Regions from separate parts of the Homo sapiens genome. Here region 2 is linked to region 1. Evidence: fine-mapped expression QTL. Tissue or cell type: aorta. Region 1 holds a variant in brackets; the other region holds the start of a gene. All regions are shown on one strand. Distances are between the middles of the regions.

What was found. PIP is the estimated chance that this variant, and not a neighbour inherited with it, causes the effect.
Region 2: MET starts here. The variant in region 1 is fine-mapped to the expression of MET in aorta (GTEx, PIP above 0.99). The same link has a PIP of 0.9 or more in tibial artery.

Annotation. Positions count from the first base shown.
Region 1 is chr7:116,774,584-116,782,692 of GRCh38, forward strand. MET (MET proto-oncogene, receptor tyrosine kinase) reads left to right here. Exons shown (of 21, transcript NM_000245.4): 15 at 298-528; 16 at 2,806-2,886; 17 at 4,193-4,374; 18 at 7,405-7,514. Among named protein-coding and RNA genes, the nearest start is that of CAPZA2, 84 kb to the right of the region's middle. RefSeq lists enhancers at 1,444-2,643, 6,195-7,123, 7,124-8,051. The variant G/C (reference allele first, on the strand shown) is at 3,211.
Region 2 is chr7:116,668,641-116,676,749 of GRCh38, forward strand. MET (MET proto-oncogene, receptor tyrosine kinase) reads left to right here and starts at 3,556. Exons shown (of 21, transcript NM_000245.4): 1 at 3,556-3,937. The region is part of intron 1 of COMETT (cytosolic oncogenic antisense to MET transcript); the gene reads right to left. RefSeq lists silencers at 3,164-3,213, 3,344-3,473, 3,534-3,723.

The sequences.
Region 1 (8,109 bases):
TCCATTCTTAAGGACATAGTATATTCAAAAATAAACCATAAGCATGGCTTTTTGCTATTGATAAAGAGAGAAATGTCTAAGGAAATGAGGGTAAAAAGCTTTCAAAATTAATACTTAGTCTACTTAAATGAAAATCTGTAAACATCTAATGAAATGCTTGTATATATAACTTAGTATCTTTTCCCAATTTATTATCATTTTTATCAAACTAATTCCATTATAAAAGCTCTTCCTGTTTCAGTCCCCATTAAATGAGGTTTTACTGTTGTTCTTTAATAATTTTCCTTCATCTTACAGATCAGTTTCCTAATTCATCTCAGAACGGTTCATGCCGACAAGTGCAGTATCCTCTGACAGACATGTCCCCCATCCTAACTAGTGGGGACTCTGATATATCCAGTCCATTACTGCAAAATACTGTCCACATTGACCTCAGTGCTCTAAATCCAGAGCTGGTCCAGGCAGTGCAGCATGTAGTGATTGGGCCCAGTAGCCTGATTGTGCATTTCAATGAAGTCATAGGAAGAGGTAAGTATTTCCACTCAGCTTTTTGTTAAATACGATTTTCCAGTAAGCATTTTATCTTTGGCCTTTGCAGATTAGGAACTTAGACAATGGTGAAAGCAACTGACAGAGCAGTGATAACAAGTGTACTTGATTTCTGTTCTATAGAAATGTAGCCCTGTAAATCATATCCGTGGGGATTTGCCCTTGTGCATGGAAGCAATTGGATAATCCCCCAAATATATTAGAACTAAATCACAATTCGTCCTCGTCCTGTGTGTACTAGCAATTATAGTTTCTTCAAAGGTGCCATTTACTTTCTTCTAAAACTCAGGGCCAGGCGCAGTGGCTCACACGTGTAATCCCAGCACTTTGGGAGGCCGAGGCAGGTGGATCACCTGAGGTCAGGAGTTCAAAACCATCCTGGCCAACATGGCAAAACCCCGTCTCTACTAAAAAAATACAAAAATTAGCCAGGCGTGGTGGCGGGTGCCTTTAATCCCAACTACTGGGGAGGCTGAAGCAAGGAGAATTGCTTGAACCCAGGAGGTGGAAGTTGCAGTGAGCCAAGGTTGTGCCACAGCACTCCAGCCTGGGCAGCAGAGCGAGACTCCATGTCAAAAAAATAAATACTTATAAATAAATAAATATCACTCCTTTAATTTTGAGTATTTTTATTCAATCTCTCTCCAGTCTTTCTTTACCCTGAGAACAGTGACAAACTCTATGAAGCCTGGTTTATAGCAGTTTGTACACTGCTGGACAGCATCAGAAGACAGAGAATTTATAGCATTCTCCTGATCTAAAGCAACATATATCATCTCTACAATGCACTCCAATTTCTTTATACAAAGATAAATGAATATTTGTAATAAGCTAGCCAAAGCAGCAATAACAGCTAGCATAAACAGTATTTGTGGAAATATTTAGCAGGAAAAGAAACCAATCAAAAACCGGGAAATGAACTTCATTCTTCTTGTTGTTTTTTTTTTTCTAAAAAGCTTTTACCCTTAATACTAAATGGCCTCTGATCCCTTTTATTCTATATGTGCTGCAAGAGGTTGTACAGGCATCTGCCAGTGTGATACAAGAGAAGCTGATGGCGTGATTTCCCTTATATGAACACAAGGCCTTCTCACTTTCCTGTGGTAGCATCCACACATTCTTCTGTCAAACACCCCAGAGCGTAATCCTTTGTGTGCTCCTTCTTCCCCAAGAGTGGCTTCACTGTTAACAAACATCTTTCCATTTCTCTTCAGAGTAATATATAGTTCTGTCATAGGCCTATAAATCCCAGTAATTGCATCAATTTTAGAGTGTGTGGACTCACTAATTGTGTTCTAATTCTACACATTTGGAAAACTAGAATTTTTTATCATGAAAGGTACTAAAATGGCAATTATTTCTCTTTTGAAGTTATAATCATTAACAGCTCTATAAATATTAGCTACTATGTATTTATATGTTTTTCTGCAGGAGAATAGGAGCACTCAAAAGCATAAGTTTTATTTTATTCTTCTTTGCATTAGTAGAGGGCAGCCTAATGCCTGACACTCACATACTAGGCACTCATGGTGTCTTGGCCAGCTGGATGAATTAATTAGTGAATGACTTACACAGCTATCAGACATTTGGCACCTCTGGGGGAAATTACTGCCACTGGATAAAAGGCTACCATTGGGAAAATGATGTGGTTAAAGCCAGAGAGAACTGGATGAAGTGAGTCAGGGTGAATTTGCTTCATCTGGGCAACTGCCTTTCAGTTTCTGCCAACCTGGATTACGTATTAACCAGTGACTAATGGGGAAATCCTTATTCTATAATACTAATCCTATTTTTAATGGTAACATTTTTATTTCATTTCAGCTTATTAGAATATAGAGAACTTATTTTATTATAGTTCTTCATGTGGGTTAACTTTATTTTCATATTTTAAAATACTATGTCATCCTTTAAAAAAATTTATTTGATGAGGCCGATGTTACTCACCTTTTCAGTGGTTCCACTGTGGTTGAATATTTTATTAGGTTAGGCTTTAATATGAGTCATATCATCTACAACTTATTCATGAATTAAATAATCACATTGCTTATATCCTTGGGTGAAATGTGTTGCATCTACATATATATTTACAAACACACCTACGTACCTATAGTGGTATTGTTAAAAGTATTTTTTAAATGTACTCTTTTGCTGTATAGAAAGAAGAAAGAATAAAATGAAGCTCATAAAGGGTTTGATAAATAATTATTTCATAATTAAATGTTACGCAGTGCTAACCAAGTTCTTTCTTTTGCACAGGGCATTTTGGTTGTGTATATCATGGGACTTTGTTGGACAATGATGGCAAGAAAATTCACTGTGCTGTGAAATCCTTGAACAGTAAGTGGCATTTTATTTAACCATGGAGTATACTTTTGTGGTTTGCAACCTAATAAATAGCTTATAATAAAACGTTGATTTACACTTTCCCCTTGTGGAAAAATCAGCTACCACTGAAATTATGGGCCTAATCCTGAAAATTTGTTTTGTTCTAGACTTTTATTGAACTACTTCCCCTGAAATGATCCCTCAGAGCCCTCATTAGTAAGGGGGTAGGAGAAATGAGGTTCTTGGATGAACTGAGTATCATTTAACTATAACTATGTTTGGTTTATAATATTTGTTTTGCAAGTGACATTTCTGGAAACTATTGGAAGCATGTTG[G/C]CACCTACAGTAGTAATGACTCATTTTACCCAGAGGCATTACTATAATTATTTTTTAACCACAACTTCCATTAAAAAGATAAAAAATGAAATAAGACAAACAGGAGAAAACTACGCTGGCCAAAAATTGAAAAATCATAAGTATGGTAATACCTCATTTATCCACATTTTTGGAGAGTGAGGCATTCCACATACATGAACTTCCTAAATAAATGAAACCTACCCCTTTTTAATGCTGGAACATTACTTAAAATTTTAGCTGTTATTGAGAAAATCTTTTTAAGATGAAATGCATACTCTGTTTAAGGGAATGCTTCCAAATACAAACTAAGTCTTTATTGGTGACCCCAAGCCATAATTACAGCCATAAATTACTATATTACACAAACAGTGTACTCCACATACATAGTGTTCCTGGCTCCGCCTGTGTTGACAGGTCTCACATGCTTGCGTTTTCTACTCCCATTTCTCATTTTCTGCTTGCAAATTGCAGCAGCCTGAAAAATGTTAACCAGCTCTACTACAAACTTTATATGGGACTTAATAAGCTTTAAGTGCACAAATGAAAGATTTTCCTGCAAGATACTTTACTGTCACAATTATTTCAGTCTTTTTAAAATATAAATCAACATGCTAAGTAGTGTTCTACATGGTTAATTTTGTTGGAAGTCTGACCATGAGGGAAATAAATGGACAGTCTTTATGAAACCTAAGTATAACCTTTGCACTAAGTTTATAGGAGACAAACTGGTGGCTGGTTGGACTCTATCTTGCAAAAGTGGGCATAGGTGGTGACTGGAAGGCACAGTGCACGGTGGCATCATTCACTCAGATGTGATGTAAAAAGAACACTCTGCAGTCAAACCCTCAGGACAAGATGCTAACTGTGTGGTTTACCATTTCATTGCTCTTCCTATCTAAATTTGACAAAAGTATTCACTGTTCCATAATGAAGTTAATGTCTCCACCACTGGATTTCTCAGGAATCACTGACATAGGAGAAGTTTCCCAATTTCTGACCGAGGGAATCATCATGAAAGATTTTAGTCATCCCAATGTCCTCTCGCTCCTGGGAATCTGCCTGCGAAGTGAAGGGTCTCCGCTGGTGGTCCTACCATACATGAAACATGGAGATCTTCGAAATTTCATTCGAAATGAGACTCATGTAAGTTGACTGCCAAGCTTACTAACTGGCAAACTAGCTGTAAGCCAGCCATCCCTTCAAAATAGGCCTGCTCTGAGTCTTTAAAAAGCTAGTAGCCAAAGATGCACATTTAAAATGTTAGCATCATTCAAATGCACCTCAAAGTCTTCTATCCTGGTGGGAAATAGTGACACCTGGAAGGGTTTCCTGGAGCAATGATTCTTACTTGCTCTGCAAGCAACCTTGCTCTACCTTCCCTCTGATAGGGACATTTAGTCATCTTTGCATGTCTACTATGTGCCAGAAACTGTGCACAGCACAGGAGAAGTGGAAGCAGAGCAAGCCTCAGCCCATATGGAATGTTAACTCTACAAGGCATTGAAAAATTAACTCCAGATGCGTTCCTTGCTGTTCCTTGTCCTTGCCATCCACTCTCACACCTCAGGAACTTTGCACTTGTGCTCCCTCAGCCTGGAACACTCTCCCCGCAAATAGCCACGTATCTCACTTCCTCATCTTCTTCAGCTTTTGGCCGTAATGCCATCTTCAACATAAGCCTTCCCTAATCTGTTTAAAATTGCAACTGACCACCCACCCTCATGGCTTCAGACTCCTCTTCCCTGCTCTATTTTCCCCCATCACACTTAACTGTCATCTGATACATGCATGAAGCTGCCTGAAGCTGCCCAATACTATGGCCATGAGCCACATGTAAAAGGAGGCTAGTTCGAACTGAAATGTGCTGTACGGTGTAGAATACATCCCAGATTCTGAATACTTAGTATTAAAAAAAAAAGAAGGTGAAATATCTCACTAGTAGTTGTTTATATTGATTACATGCTGAAATATTTTGGATTTTGGGGGTTGAAAAATACATTGTGAAAATTAATTTCACCTGTTTCTTTTTACTTTTGAGTATGGCTACTAGAAAATTTTATATTACATGTGTGTCTTGCTTTATATTTCTATTGAATAGCACTGTAGTAGATAATAAACAAATAAACAATAGCTATATAGATGTATATGTATGCATATATATGTACACACACCCTCATCCCATTAGAATGGAAGCTCATGAGGGTAGGATTTTTGTGTATTTTGTTCACTGCTGTGGCTCCAACACCTAAAACAGTGTTTAGCACATAGACTCGCAGTAAATAATTGTTGAATGAATCAGCTAAGGGTTACAAAAAAAGGTTCTTAGCCTCTTGCAAGTGGTAGATTTTTTTCTTGACATTTATGCCAGGACCTAAAAGTCACCAGGCCAGGACCAGGGAGGGTGGGAATAAGAATCTCAAGAACTGAATTCATAGAAGGCCTCAAGCTCCGTCTCGGTTCCTGCTCTCCAAGTCTCTGTGGGAGGTAATGAAGTTGATCAAAAGCAACTTTATAAATATGGGGTCAAATTATCAGAGAAAATAAGCTCTAGGAGAGTAATGAGATATTACTCAGCCAAAAGAATAAAACATTCCCTGGCAGTGAACTTTTGCAGATAAGGCGAATTGACCTTACAAAGCACACAGCTGCCCTGACAGACCCCACTTTCCCACTTCAACTTTTGTTATTACCCTGATGGATTAATGTGGCTGGAGGTGCTACCTTCTCTAGGGTACTGTTACCCCAGGATTAAAGCATGATAGAGATTTCCTGTTATCCAGAACGGAATAGTGCCATGGCCTTTTTTAATCCAAGGAGCTGATACTGAGAGCAACCACAAACCCAGATGTGTCTTAAAGAGAAACCTAAAACCAGGAACTGGCCTTTCTCTATGCTGTGTGCATTGAGTGGGGCTACAGCCCTTTTGCAGGGTCCCCACTGACTACATCTTGCACTGACAAACTCCTCAGTGACTGTTGAAGGGGAATACCCCATTCCTGATTGCCAGCCAGTGACATCACCAGACTTGACAGCTGAGTGGTTTGGGGTGATTTCTTTCTGAGCCTCCTCTATTCACTGTGCTTCTGATGTTCTAACATCTTGGGCCTTACTAACCCTGGAGGAACTGTCCCTCCCAAGGCTAGCTAATTCCTGCAAATAGTAAACAGCTTGCCTTCAAAGCATACCTGTCATGTGCAAACCAACCAATCCAGAGCCCTTATCTAACCTCCTCCTTTATCAGGCTCTTACACTTTGGGCTACTATCCACCTGCCCTAATCACCCCAGGGCCCAGTTCCAGACAACTAGAACTATCCTCGGAGCCTGCTGAAATACTCCAGATTGGCCAGCTCCAAACCTGCTTACCCTGCCTTACCAGTTTCTTCCCAGGGAAACTGCAATGAAGGCTCTTGCTCATGTTTTTCCCCTCTCTCTCTCTGCCTCTAGAGCCCAGGGCTTCCCCCATGTGACCCTGCATGACAGGGTGTGCCTCCTCCTCTTGCAAACTGTGAATAGCAAACTATCTTTTCAATGGCAGTTGTCTCCTGTTCTGTTGGCCTCATCATACCTGGAAAATAATAAAACTACATTTTAAAACACCTCCATTTTCCCATCTGGAAAATGGAGCCTGTAACACCTGCCTGACAGAAGTGTAGAAGTAGCTGTAATTTATGAAAACAATTAGCCTGGTGTGTTGCATACAATAAATACTTAACAAATGGTTGATCTGTCAATGGGGCACACTTTTTGTTGTTGTTGTTTTGTTTTTTGTTTTTGGAGACAAGGTCTCTGTCACCCAGGCTGGAGTGCAGTGGCACAGTCATAGTGCACTGCAGTATCCAACTCCTGGGCTCAAGCAATCCTCCTTCCTCAGACTCCTAAGCAGCTGGGACTATAGGTGCACACCACCACACCAGGCTAATTTTTTTGTGGGCGGTGGATGGGAGTAAAGACAGGATCTCACTGTGTTGCCCAGGCTGATCTCAAACTCCTGGCCTCAAGCCATCCTCTCGCCTTGGCCTCTCAAAGTTCTGGGATTACAGGCTTGAGCCATTAAGACCAAACTAATTTTTGAGACAAGATAATTTTTTATAAATAAATATTTCAGAATTCTAAGGTCAAAATTAGAACAGTAGATGCTTAGTTTATGCTTTTCTAACTCTCTTTGACTGCAGAATCCAACTGTAAAAGATCTTATTGGCTTTGGTCTTCAAGTAGCCAAAGGCATGAAATATCTTGCAAGCAAAAAGTTTGTCCACAGAGACTTGGCTGCAAGAAACTGTATGTAAGTATCAGAATCTCTGTGCCACAATCCAAATTAAGTGACAAGGAGGAATCTGTTTCCCACTGTTCAATGCTAGTTAAGCTGTTTTCTCTTCTTATGCAAAAGTCCTTTATTTCTGTTACAATCTTAAATCGATGTGTAAGCCCTGGGGATGTGGGTGGGACTTTCAGACTTTATCCAACAGAGAATTTAAAAGGATTCTCCATAGGGGGTCTTAAACAGCTGTTGTGTACTTTTGCTTTTCTCAGTCCTTCCCTCCAGTAGCTCTCAATGTTGTGGTTTCACACTGCATTAGTGTTGGGGAGGGAGAATTTGATCTTCAGCATTTGACAGTGAAAAGGAGAGGGCTGGGAACACAAATACCAACATATTGCAACTTCCCAAGAGTGGATTTGAAGCCAGCCTGCAGAAGCCCTACCAAAAATGGTATTTGGCAATGAATATACAAAGAACTTTATTTGTGTCTGGCTGCCTGGCTATGTAATACAACAGTCAACAGTTTGTAATTGAGTTCATGTTTTCCCTTGCATAGCACTGATTCATGACTTATGGTATGTGTGAATGAAAAAGGGTGTGCTATTAATTTCCTACCTTG
Region 2 (8,109 bases), 110 kb before region 1:
GGTAATAGGAGTCCTACATTTCCAAATTTTATCTGTGCTCAGAAATGACATTAGGTGACATTACCTGAATTCTTCTATTGTCTTTTTGTAGAGACATTTGCCATAGGCACAATAATAGGGGTGATGGGGCAGGAGGAAGGGAAAAACAGAGTGAAAGAAGGAGTTCCAGAGTAACTACTCTTTAAGGCAGGGATCACAGATCCTAATGCCTACAGGAGAAAGTGAAATCAAGATCAGAGGTGGGCCAGACACAACCCAAGAGAAGATGGTAGGTCAATGGCAAACAGCAGATCATATGGTCTTTCTACCTCAATTCACACTTTTAAAAACATTCTGTGCACCTGTATATGTCTGTGGGCCCTATTCACCATACATTGCAAGCATGAAGCCCCTATTCTTAGGAGACTGCTTTCATTTTTATTTCAAAAACAGCACCAACTTCAAGAGTGCCTTCAAAGACCCAAATTTTAATGTGTTAAAGGGAGGGAAAAAAAGATAGAGCATATTAGAGCAGGAGGTGGCTGTTCCTCTGTCTCTTTGTCACAGCTATCACTAGACCCATCTCAAAGTTAAGAGATGGGATCCTGTTTGTAGTTCAACATTATGTTATCCACAGGTGGATGGATAAGACCTGCTTATGCCTTTGGATCATTTATATTTTACCAGACACTGTTCCATGTGCTCTACTTGTAGCTCCTCATTTTATCCTCACAATAACCCTATCATGATCCCCATTTCACAGATGAGACACGAGAGAGTTTAATCCACTGGCCTGTAGCTACACAGCTAGCAAGAGACATAGCTGGGATTGAAATCCAGGTTGTTTGGTTCTAAAACTCTTAACTATTATGCTCAACTCAGTCTTGGAGATGTTGTTCCCAATTTGAGGGGTCTATCAGTTTTAATTGCTTTCAGCTGCAGGTGACAGAAGTCCCAGCTACCAGTGTCTAGAACAAGTTTTGTTTTTGTTTTTTTTCCACAAAACAAGAAATCTGGAAGCAGGTGTCTACTGGCAGTAGGGCTGTACCTCAGCAATGTCAGCACCAACTTCTGCATGCTGGTCACAAGATGGTTAGTTCTTCACTGGGCATCATATATGAAATCAAGAAGCAAGAAAGGAAAAGGGGTGGCACCAGCCTTAAACCCTTTCCCACAAGGCCCCATCAGACTTCAACTTATACCTCATTACCAGAATGACATCACATGGCCATGTCTAGCTGCAAAGGAGTCTGGGAAAGCAAATATTTCTCTTTTCAAGCCCCAAGAGTGGAGGCAGGAACAGGAAAATCTCGTTGGGAACAGATGCTGGCTTAGCCAGCCAACAGTGTGGACCACAAGAGATTTGGTTTGGTTAAGAAAATACCAACAGAACTTCATCATACAGTGTATCACCCATGACATGAACCCAAGGAAAGTTAAATAGCAACAATTAAAAGTTTGCTGCAAAACCAAAATTGAATTATAGAACTCCTATTACCTTTTAAAATATCTGTTTCCATTCATTTCCAAAAATCTGAAATTATCTGTAAACATTTTCCCAATCAAATCTGTCTAGGTAGTGTGTAAAAATTACTTGACCTTCACACACCCAGATACTTTTAGTTATGCTATTGTTAGTTATGTTATTTCATAAAATGTTATCTCCTTATTTACAGTTGATAAATGAAATGATGATTTTCAATACAGTTTCAAAACTGGATTGAAATTTTGTTAGTTATTAGAAACTAGAAAGTTTCAGTGCTGAAAATACACAACGGGTTGTTTGTATTTATCATCTATTTTATTTTCCAGTTTGCATTGGCTTTTCTGGGTCTTTCTACAACTTTAATTGTAAATTTTTTCTTTTATATTTTTATCATGGCACTCAAACTCAGAAAACCTGTTAAGGCAACTACATAATGTGATCTAAAAATCCAGTTAACATATTGCTATGGAAACCAGGAAATAGAAACAGCACTCTAATCATTCCTTTAGACAACTATGGCTCTGTGTGTGTGTGTGTGTGTGTGTGTGTGTGTGTGTAAAACTTTTTAAATTCATTAATTTATTCATCTTTTATTGAAAGCTGTTACTGAACCCAAAATCTGTAATTGATCTGTCCATAAATAGGCCCAGTGCCTTATTACCAGTAAATTAGTGTTTTTTAATGAGCTATAGTCATTGATAAATTATGCCATGCCGTATCAGGAAATCTCCAGTCAGGCCGCGTTGTTTATTTAGCCTGCTGAGGCCTCTTGGTATGGTGTGAAGGACACCTGACTGGGCTGAAAGCTAAGTTCTAACTTTGCCCCTCTTACTAACCAGCTATGTGACTCTCCTGGGAACTTTTAGGGACTCAGTTTCTTTACCTGCAAAATGGTTCAATGCAAGACTTTAGTAACGTAATGGGAACTTTCCTTTTCCATAAAACTGGGGAATCAAGAGGTAATCTCTTTTGAGGACTGAAATCACTCTTATGTAACCTCTGGTTACATTATCATTTCCAAGTGCCTGGCACTTGGGAAATGATAACTATTCTTACTACATTTTTCTATGTTTCATTCTGTAGTAAATAAGAACTGAACCTGCATAGTAACTGTTATTTTAACCCATGACTTTCAATAACGAAGATATCTATGTCTCATTATCTATTGCCATGATTGAACAAGTTGGTATGAGAGCCGGAACGAACTCAAGTTCTAACCGGCAATGCCCGTTCCTTAGATCCTATTACCTTTGAGTGTTCATTTACTCTTGTAGGTGCCAATTTTTATAGCGAAATACAAAGTTATCCCAACACAATTACTCCTAATAGAGTTCACCGAGGCCCCAAAAGCTCTTTTTTAAAAATCATCATAAGATTTCAACATTCAAGAATTAAACTTTTGTTCTGTTGTGCTTATTCATCGCTATTTGCCCAGTTATTTAATCAGCCTGCTTCCGGCTATGGAAAAAAAAAAAAAGAAAAAAAGAAATGGAAGTCTCCTCAGGGTTAAACTCCTCTGTTGTTCTTCCTTGCAGAAATTTGAGTTATTATAGTAGAGGATAATCGTTGCATAATGAAATCATTGGGACAATTCGTCCATCCACTTCTACCTCCGCCTCTAACAATGAACTCCTTGTTTCTGCGGTGCCCAAATCTCTCTAAACCCGGGTGGGCGCGGGGCGGTTAGCGGAGACGTGGGAGAGGCCGAGAGCAAAGCTCGCGCCCTTCCCGGGGTCAGCGAGCGGGGTGCCAGGAGGGTGCGCGCCCTGCATCTGAGCCCGGGGTGACACTCGCCTCCCAAGCGCCAGGAGGGGGAGACTCGGTCCCGCTTATCTCCGGCTGTGCTAACTTCAGACTGCCTGAGCTGGGGGAGGAGAGCGCGCAGCCAGGGCGAGAAAACTTCTCCACCTAGAAAGTTTCACCTTGTCGTGGGCGGGGCAGAGGCGGGAGGAAACGCGACCCCCGCGGGGCCAGGCGCGGCGCGGACGGCAGGAAGGGCGGGGGCCGATTTCCCTCTGGGTGGTGCCAGTCCCCACCTCAGCGGTCCTCGGAACCCGCGGACTAGGGGACGGACAGCACGCGAGGCAGACAGACACGTGCTGGGGCGGGCAGGCGAGCGCCTCAGTCTGGTCGCCTGGCGGTGCCTCCGGCCCCAACGCGCCCGGGCCGCCGCGGGCCGCGCGCGCCGATGCCCGGCTGAGTCACTGGCAGGGCAGCGCGCGTGTGGGAAGGGGCGGAGGGAGTGCGGCCGGCGGGCGGGCGGGGCGCTGGGCTCAGCCCGGCCGCAGGTGACCCGGAGGCCCTCGCCGCCCGCGGCGCCCCGAGCGCTTTGTGAGCAGATGCGGAGCCGAGTGGAGGGCGCGAGCCAGATGCGGGGCGACAGCTGACTTGCTGAGAGGAGGCGGGGAGGCGCGGAGCGCGCGTGTGGTCCTTGCGCCGCTGACTTCTCCACTGGTTCCTGGGCACCGAAAGGTAAAATTGCAGCCCCTTTCAGATCCAGTACCCAATCCCTCGCCTCAGGGGTTCTGCTTTCTTTGTTCCCCTAAGAGACCTGACTGCTGTTCCAGGGGGCAAAACCACGTAGGTGGGCTAGAGTTTAGGGGCTTCGGAAACTGAAGAGACGTGGCCACGGCGAGGACGAAACTAGAATGGGGCTTGTCTTTTTAGGGGGTTGCTTCTGATGGCCACCTGTATGACTTAGGAGGGAGAGGGGCGCTGGGACAGTGGGTGATGTGTGACTGTTACGGCCCAGCAAGTTTTAAAGCTGGGATCTGACTCAGCCCTTACAAAAGGGATCCGGTCATCCTCGTCCCACCGTGATGCAGCTGGCAAGGTTTGAGCCGAGCTGTTTCCTTGTTCCCAGCCTTGCTTTATCTGTGTTATGTTGGGGTCCTTCCAAGGGGCAGGTGTTTCTGTGAAAGTCTGAATTCATTTCTGGCAATCACGCGGGGCTTGTGATCCATCAATTTTCCATCGTACCTTATCTCTTTCTGGGGCTTGTGGTGGACATCTATCTTATTAGGTGAAATAGATTATAACCAGAGGCTGAGCGATGTGGCCAGTCGTAGTGCTGACCCGATAATTAAAGCACCAGTGAAAGTACTTTCCCTGACTATTGTCAATGCAGAATTTACTCCGAAGTACGGTTTCCCATTCATATCTTTCATGTTTTAAAAGAGCCATTTGCTAATTTGGCAGTTGGAGAGGGCTCCAATGGCTCACGCATGAATAGTTGCCCAGTGTATTTTACCTTATCACAGTTTTATGTTCAAAGGAGCCCTCGGGCAGAATGAAATATTGTCAACTCTCTTAGGCAAAATAATCAAGATACTTTAATTGCTATGTTAAGATGGTCCATGAATGTGAGAGGATTGTAAGAACTGACGTTGGAGGCAATATAGACTATCTGGACCCTCTCTTGAATTTTAAGAAGACTGTTCACATTCTGTAGCTTTGGGTGGGGGTTTATTCTGTCGCTTTCATCAGCCAGACACATGCACATTGCCATGCAAATGGATTCAGAAAAACATTATATTCCCTTACAGCTAAACTATTATAGCTGACTAATGAATTTTTTCTGCATGAAGATGATCTGAAAATGATGTACATCATGTTTCTCTGTGCTACAGGGACATAAATTGCATTTTTATGTAAACAGTGTAAGTGGTGCTTGGATTATTTACAGGTACATAGCTTTCCTTCCTTGATCTAAGCTAATTGAGCTTTGTTTTGAACGTGTAAACTTCCATAATGGAACATAAGTGAGGTACTTTGGTTCCTATCATTTGCAAGTCTGTGGTGTATTCAATGTTCATTCTTTTTGAACTGCTGAATAACAGAGGGAAAATTTACATCATTCATAAGAAATTTTGGTAGTACAAAAATGTGTCTGATAGCCTATAAAATGTACTGCTGTTTTAAAAATTCTATTCCGTTTTCAAACTTAATGGTGTATAAGCTATAGTTATTAACTTAAATATATTTTGCTTTTAACATGATGGAATTTGTGGCATATAGAAGACAGTCTGCCGACTACTGCTTTTTCAAAATTGCTTTGTTCTTGATACATGGCAGTAGGGGTTTACATTAGATGTATACTACATGCTTTCAAAATTAGTTGATGGAGTTTATCTTCATGATAAAAAATGTACCAGATTAATCATAGCCAGTCAATACGAAAGCTCATAACTAATATTTTCACTACTTTTAAACCTATAATAGAGAAAAATGACCCTTTGCTAAGCAGGAGAAATACCCATATTTTATAAATTCCTTTTAAGACTATGTAAGTATATGCCTTGCATTAATCTTGAAATCTTTAAAAAAAAATTGTCTTAATGAGGGCTAGACTAAGAAATACATTTCAAAAATCAATTTCCTTAGCTGTTTTTAAAATAGTGTTTGAAGTAGCATTAGTCATATTATCCTTCTGCAGATCTACATAATAGTCTCAAATTAACTTTTTCTCAAATGTGGTCATCTCAAAACAACGTGAATAACTCAGAGGAGCTAACATCCTCTAACTGGCTTATTTTCTCCAAGTGGCTGCACCAAAGACATGGCAACACCCCCATGGTGAGCACAGTTCCTCACACATTCAGATTACCTCCCATTTCTCTGTCCTCTTCCTCCTCAACCCTTTCCCTTGGTTTGGTCAGAGCTGCTTTCAAGGCCTTCCGTGCCCCCATTTCTCCAGCCCAGTTTGCTCGTTTCTTCTTTAGGCATTAGGCTTAGTGATTCTCGCCAGAGCCATCTACGCTTTCTTTTCCGTGGTCTAAATCCCTAAGATTTCCTTGGTCTGCTGTGTTTATTCATAGGATACTCAATTTCCTCATTGTGCCCTCTTAAGGGGAGAAAATGTATGTAGAAACTCAAGTGTCCGGAAGTGAGCCTTCTTTTCCTGGCTGGTGTATGCTGAAACTAGTGTTTTTGACACCAAGCCCTTAGGGCAGAGTTTCTTCATGGGTTTTGCTCAGTGCAAAATAAATAGTCACTTCTCAGTAATAAATGATAGATACACTGACTAATGTTAGTTCAGAATCACTTTGATGATGTGTTCTCAACTGACACTGAGTTGCTGCTAGATCCACATTTGCCTGACCAAAAATAGCTAGGACCTATAGGTAGAGTATCATATGTGCTAGGTACTACAGCATTTTCTTTAAAAGAAAGAAATGGAATCTGCCCTTGAGAAGTTTATGATCTAGATACACAGACAAATATCACATATTAAATGAACACAAATTCATAATTATTAAGAGGACATCACATGAGAAACGCTTTCAAAATCATCCTATTTGCTATGAAATAATAGAATTTTTTTTTAAAAATCAAAGTTTGGAACTTAAAAACCTTAACATTTTCAAGCTGTTTCTGCATACATCACCTTTCTGATACCAAAACGACCTTACAAGATAGGCAAGTCTGATAACATCTTAACATTCTTATGTTATAGACAAGGAAACTGAGCTTGAGACTAGCTCCATGCTATTTCAATAGCACCATACCACCTTTCCTCAGCCATCAACTATTGGAAACATTTTCCATGGAGGCATCATTAGGGATGCTTAAGATAGTGGTAAATGATGAATATAACATATCTAGTCCCTGGAGTTTTTGTCACCTTCTCTTTCTCCAGTTCTCTCTCTCTTTTTTTTTTTTAATTTCTTTTCTTTTCTTTTTTTCTTTTCTTTGTAGTGAGACATACCGAGAAAAGGTTTCATTCATATGTGTGGGGCATTCTGCTCCTGTTATCAGATTAAGAGCCGTGAATAATTTTGTAATCTATCCTTCTATCAGAAAGCCCATTCTCAGATATCTTTTCAGCTGTGTTAAACAGGTTAGTATATTCCGCTTGGGATTTGTTTCAATAAAAACATCCAGTAAAATCTGACTACTTTGCTTTTCATGGGACAAAATGAAAAAAGTGCTTTTATAAGCTGTAAAACTTAATTGAGAGAAAAAATCACGTGTGGCATTTGTAGCAGGAGGTATGAGCTCAGTGAAATAAAAAAGTTAACTTTGTAATCACATACCCAGGTACACATATTTCTCTCTGTGATTGCATAAATGTGTGCAAGTATGTTTATGTAGGTTACTCCCATTGATTTTAATTTCTATAATAAATTATGTAGCTATAGGGCCCACAGGCGATTATATAATGGGCAATAGAATTTGAAAATGTATCTCTCCTAATATAATTAAGGATAGCAATTATGAAATGTGCTTAGAGAATCACAAGTTATCGTGAAAGCCAGGTTCCTGTACTCCAAGAATGTGAATGAGGATTTAGTCATTCATTCAGGACAATTTTTTGACAACCTACGAGGCATAGTTCTAAAATCTGGCATTTCCACAGAGTATAAAACAGATGAAAACCTCTAACCTCATGACACTCTGTTCTATTGAGTTGGCAAACAATAAAGAAATACATAACTGAAATGTGTTGTATGTCAGGTGATGATAATAGCTTCAAGGTAGAATAAAATGGAAAAGAGAATAGTGACTGTCAAGGATAAGAGAGAGTGGGATGGTGATTGAAAAACTCAATAGTGAGGTCAGGGAAGGCTTGTCTTCAAAGGTGGGCTTTGGGCTAGAATCTGAAGGAGATAAGGAAGTGAGCCAGGCGCATATGAGGAGCACTT